Regions from separate parts of the Homo sapiens genome. Here region 1 is linked to region 2. The links come from fine-mapping of genetic effects on plasma protein levels. A gene starts in region 2. The other region holds a variant in brackets. All regions are shown on one strand. Distances are from middle to middle.

Region 1 (2,851 bases), 26 kb before region 2:
AGGTTCTCCCCATGCCCCATCCCCAAACCAGCCAAAGAAGTTGGTTCTTGATGCTACCATTTTAGTTATAGTTTATTTCATACCCTAAGGCAATTTTATCCCAAAGGGTCACCTGGTGAAGTCAAGTGCTGTTGAGATAAAGGCTGTGGAGGCTGCTGGAGCACTGATTCCAGCCAGTAGGCTTCCTGGTCCCCTCAAGGCACCTCTACTCTCAGTGCTCTCAGAGCCCACATGGGATGTCCCTCACACCTGGCCTGGAAGCCAGAGGGCAGGAAGCCAGCCTCAGCCTCAGCTCCAAATACGCAGACAAGCCCTCCCCGCTGCAGCCACACCAAATGGCAATTAAGTCAAAAGCTGGGTAGCAGAGGGTTTCTGGGCCAGAGTGCATGGTGTCTCTGGATCTACTTCCCTTGGTCATGTGTACTGGGGGGTAGGGAGGCACAGACACCCAGGCCCCTGCCTCAGGTCCAGCAAAGCTGAAAGGATGAGAACAGAGGAAACCAAGAAGCAGGCAAGAGGCCTGGGACCCAGGGCAGGGTCAACCCTCCTGGCTGCTTACCTGTCACTTGCATAAAGGGATGTGTCAACTTAGCATCCAGGATTTCCTTTTTCCCAAAATGAGACAGGGCATTGCAGTAAATGCTAGGAAAGCTCTCTGGCATATATGCATGCCTAGTTTTAACTTCCATTGATTTGACATTTACTACGTTCCAGGCACTCAGTGGCATGGGTATTCTGCACACAAAATTTCACTGAATCCTCTCAACAACTCCCTGAGGGTAGGATAACAAGATAGCTGAGGTAAGTGAAGGTCAGGAAGGCTAAGTCCTGAACCAAACTGCCACTGCTAGTAAGCGGCAGAGCTGGGATTGGAACTAGGGGCTGTCTGGCTTCAGATCTTTATCCTTAACCACCATGTTATACGGGGACTAAAGAGTGCCGGTGAGTTGTGAACCCAGACCCTTCCCCAGCCACACCTGGCAACACCCCCTGATCTCTGGGACCACAGCTGGGTTGTAGGGAAAGAATGGAGTCTCCTAAATGGTGATTTTTCTTTATTTCCCCGCACCTTCAATCTCATGGCATGGTCTGCAGGAAACCTCAGAGTCCTGCCAACTCGCAGGCTTCGCTGATCGCATGGCACCTGGGCACCCCGCCAAAGAGCTGAAACTCCCAAGGCTCAGCCAGGACTCTCCAGCTGTGGTGTTTCTAAAAGCCGTTCTGGGTGAGATGTAGAGCCGAGTTTTCCCAGTCGCTCAGTCCTCCTCCCGTGAGGACAACACTGCTTGCTCTCCTGGCTTGCCTCACCCATCCAGGAAAAGGTGGGGAGGGGCTCTAGGCAGCGGCCTCTCCTGGTTGAAAGAAACTGAGACCTGGGCCTTCCGTCCAGTTTAACCTGGAGCAGGCCTGGCCCCTGGGCAGGCTCAGAGCAGGTCCCCCATTCAGCAAATGAGGGTATCCTCCTATTTTGCCAACATCCATCTTCACCGACTTGGCCTGAACCCATTCTGAGTACAGAGGGACACCCATGACAGAAATCCCAGGTCAACTCTGCTGGAAGCCACTGTGCTGGAAGAGGACTTCTTTCACTTTGTCCACGATGGTCCCCACTTCAGCCATGGCCCCGAGACCTGGGAGCAAAATTCCGCTGTGGCCAGACAGGCCAACAGTGCCTGTAGCCCTGCAGACCCCTGCCCATTGCTCCAAGTGCTCCACCCAGAGCCCAAGGCCTGAGAGGGCAAGGTCTGTCTTTGCCTGAGCCAGACACATCAGATCTCTCCCAAGACCCCTGGCAAGACCCTGGGACTCGTTCCAGTAGCCATCCTTAACTGCGTGTGGGCTGCGTGCCAGGGACTCTACCAGGTACTTTACACATTCCACCCCATTTTACCCTACCAATCTGGAGGCAGGAATTACGATTCCCATTTTCCAGCTGAGAAAGCTAAGCTCAGAGAATGGTTTGCTAAGGTCATTAACAGGCCAGGAACTGAACTGAGATATGACCCCAAAGCTGAGCCCCTTCTACAGCCCTGGGCTATAAGCCTGGCAAGACACCCACCTTCATCTCCGCACACCAGCTTCTTGGCCACACAGGGGATCTCGACATAGCCAAAGGCCTTGAGCTGGTCTACCTGCTGCGCTGTGATCGGGTGCTCCCACATGGCGGTGTTCATGGCCGGGCAGAAGAGCAGGGGCTTGCTGCGGTCCCAGGCCCGCATGACGCAGGTCTGTGAAGAAGGCCAGGGAAGTGGGGGTCTTGCTACTCTGTCTGCCACCCTCCCCACCGCCCTCCAGACCCTGCAGCCAGCAGCCCAGCTGTAGGCTTGAGATGACTGGGCACAGCCTGCCTGCAGGGAGCTGTCTCATCCCTCAGGGGTGGGGGCTATGTCTCCTCGCCTCTCTCCACCTCCCCACAGGCTCTGGCACAGGATCCTACAAACAGGAGGTGCTCAACCAACGCTCAGACCTCCAGCAGGTATCCCTGTGCCTAAGCCTCCTCCAGGTAGGCTCACACCTCCTGGGAAAAGCAACCCTGGGGAGCAGAAGGCAGGCTTTTTTGGTTGCACCAGAAAGCAAAGGACCAGGCTGCTCCTCAGGTGGGGCTCATCTACTTGACATCAGCTCTCCGAGGCCAACTAAAGTCTGGCAATGAAAACATCTGCC[G/A]TTACCAAAACCTTCTCATATATAGGATCTCATTAACCCTCACTGAGACCTTATAAAGAAGGTGCTGTCCCATTTCACAGATAGGGAGCTGCTCCCTGAGAGGTAAGCAGTCATCCACGCCCACACCCGGACAATGGGCACCACCCAGGCAATGTTCCACTGCACAGCCTCACCATCTCCCAAATCC
Region 2 (2,900 bases):
GCTATGATTGCACCACTACACTCCAGCCTGGGAGACAAGAGTGAGACCCTGACTCAAAAAAAAAAAAAGAAAAGAAAAAAGAGTATACAGGAGGGTGATGTGGTGGCTCACACCTGTAATCCCAGCATTTTGAGAGGCCAAGGAAGGAGGATAGCTTGAGCCAGGAGTTTGAGACCAGCCTGGGCAACATGGTGAGACCCTGTCTCTACAAAAATGAAATAAAATAAAAATTAGCCGGGTATGGTTGTTTATGCCTGTGGTTCCAGCTACACAGGAGGCTGAGGCAGGAGGATCCCTTGAGCCCAGGAGGTCGAGGCTGCAGTGAGCCATGTTCCTGCCACTGCACTCCAGCCTGGGTCACAGAATGAGACCTTGTCTCAAAAAAAAAAAGTATACAGCAATCCCCTGCGGATACTGAGGGATAAATGTATCTAACACACACACTCACACACGTGGGCTACTAGAAAGGCAGTGACTGCGAATTGCTACTTCCCAGCCACTGTGAGAGATGTGGAAACCCCTGCTCCAGGACAACCACCACTTCCCCAACTTGGCAACCTCTCCTGCTCACCATCTAGCACCTGCTTCCAAATACTTCAAGGACAGCAGGAAGTTCTTTTCTGACAAGATTTGGCCTAATTTTTAAATAGCACTCAGCACTTTTTGGCAGGCCTAGGGCTACTTCCAACATCCCATGGCTTTCCTTTTTTAATTTTACCAACTTTTTAAATACACTTTGTACTTTGGGCAGCCCGGGTAAGCGTTCAGTGTGAGGAGCTGACACGGCCATCATTTAAACTAGATTAAACGACACTGGACAAATAATCGCAGAGCAGCACAAAGTCGGGCTGGACGGGTACAGATGCAAACCCTCCACTCAGGGCTCGGGGGTCCCTCCTGCTCCAGGCGGCCCCACCCGTACAGCCGGGAAAGTGAGGTCGCACAGATGGACGGCCGCCTACCCACGCACAGTCGCAAACAGAGCTTCATGGGCACACAGGGGAAAATAAGGACACACACAGACAGCCGTGGACCCACGCTCGCGGACACAGCTCCCCGAACCTCCCCTCCCGCGCCGCCGCGAGAACCCAGCTTCCCAGCCCCCTTCCACTGCTCACCCGCGCCAGGCGCGTCTCGGGGCCGCTCCCAAATATCGCGGTATCTCTGCCGCTCTCCCGCGGAATCTGACTGGCACGCCTCACGAGAGCACCGGGCTGGCTGTATGTCGCGCAGCCTTCTGGGAGCTGTAGTCCACTTCTCTGCCTTCCGGGAGTTGTAGTCCACTGGGGAAATCCTGGAGCAAACCCTGGCCCTGTTCTTTGTATTGCTGGGACTCTCGATAGGGGCTGGCATAACTGTCCGACCTCCTTTCCTCACTCCTATCAGCCCCACACACACTGCTTGTTGCTTGGGGCCTTTTTTTTTTTTTTTTTTTTTTTGCTGTTGTCCCAGGTTTATTGAAAATATTACAGTATCTCAAAAAGATTCAAACAGCTTCCACGTGGCGTTTTGAAATTCATCCCCACTGTTGGCTGAGTGACCTGCAGGTTGGACAGACTGCCAAAGTCCAAAAACATCAGCATTTCCTTAATGTCAGGATATGTTAATACTTCAATGATTTCCTGATCCAGGGCTGAGACCTCAGGAACATGATTATCTCTCCTTTCTCTCTTCTCCTCCTGCAACTTGATGCAGATACCTCTCACTGAGCGCTTCAAATCAGCTTCATCACATGCATGTTGTAGCCTGCTATCTTGTTGGGGAGCTGTTTTTTTTTTTGTTTTTTTTTTTTTTTTTGAGACAGGGTCTGGCTCTGTCACCCAGACTGGAGTGCGCAGTGGTGCTATCTCCACTCACTGCAACCTCCACCTTTTGGGCTTAAGCCATCCTCCTATCTCAGCCTATGGAGTAGCCAGGACTACAGGAGTGCACCATCATGCCAGACTAATGTTTGTATTTTTTGTAGAGACGGGTTCTCACTCTATTGCCCAGGCTGGTCTCAAACTCCTAGGCTCAAACAATCCGCCCACCTTGGCCTCCCAAAGTGCTGGGACTACAGGAGTGAGCCACCACGCTCGGCCCTGGGGAGCATTTTGCTGGAAATAATGGTGATCTCCTTGCACATGTGTTGTTTGTGTGGAAGTTGCTGCCCGGGTGTGTGTATTACTTTTTTATGACGAAGTATAGAAAAGGGCTATCTTCATGGTATTAGTGTGAATGGGGCCCATGTTGGCAGGTCCTTAGTAAAAGAGGGCTCGTGGCACTTAATATTTACCAAGCCTCTTCTATTTTAGGTGCACAGGATACAGAGATAAATCAGATGCGTCCCTGTTCTTGAGACAAACAGGGACACAGAAAATGACAGGGTAAGATCCTCCATGAGGAAGCAACACCTCTAGGCAGGAAAGCCTTCTTGAAGGAGTGACTTGAAATGAATCTTGAAGGACAGCCAGGAGGTTAGATAGAGGATCCCAATAGCGATCCAGGTGGAAGGCATCAAATGGGCAAAGGGAAGGCGGCAGAAGAACACACACTGGCATGCTTCCCTGCCCCCTTCATTTTCTAGCCTTCACAGGCCCCAGGAACCTCTGTATTCATTGAGGTGGCTGAACCAGCTGCGGGTCCCCTGCCCTGAGCTGAGGTGGGGCCTCTGCTCTACCCCCGCCCTTAGCCGCAGTGGACCATCTGGGCCAAACCATCCCTTACGCAGGGATCCAGCCGTGTCTTTTTTTTTTGAGATGGAGTCTTGCTGTGTCGCCCAGGCTGGAGTGCAGTGGTGCGATCTCGGCTCACTGCAAGCTCCGCCTCCTGTGTTCACGCCATTCTCCCGCCTCAGCCTCCCGAGTAGCTGGGACTACAGGTGCCTGCCACCTCGCCCGCCTAATTTTTTGTATTTTTAG

Direction of the effects. Positions count from the first base shown, and alleles are read on the strand shown. Strength reflects both the effect of a copy and how common the allele is.
For the plasma level of the protein whose gene starts at base 1,155 in region 2, allele A in region 1 goes with a lower level than allele G (moderate association).

The links. A credible set is the group of variants that fine-mapping cannot tell apart. PIP is the posterior inclusion probability: the model's chance that the variant is causal. The UK Biobank Pharma Proteomics Project read protein levels with antibody pairs (Olink). The fine-mapping took linkage between variants from a reference panel, not from the people measured, so its PIPs are less certain.
Region 1: its variant is the best candidate, but not a certain one, in a credible set for the plasma level of the PPCDC protein (UK Biobank, PIP 0.73).

What each region holds. Positions count from the first base shown.
Region 1 is chr15:75,047,930-75,050,780 of GRCh38, reverse strand. It overlaps PPCDC (phosphopantothenoylcysteine decarboxylase), which reads right to left. Exons shown (of 6, transcript NM_021823.5): 5 at 2,060-2,228; 6 at 55-1,631. The coding sequence ends at 1,546. Among named protein-coding and RNA genes, the nearest start is that of PPCDC, 26 kb to the right of the region's middle. The variant G/A (reference allele first, on the strand shown) is at 2,665.
Region 2 is chr15:75,021,845-75,024,744 of GRCh38, reverse strand. It overlaps PPCDC (phosphopantothenoylcysteine decarboxylase), which reads right to left and starts at 1,155. Exons shown (of 6, transcript NM_021823.5): 1 at 1,119-1,155.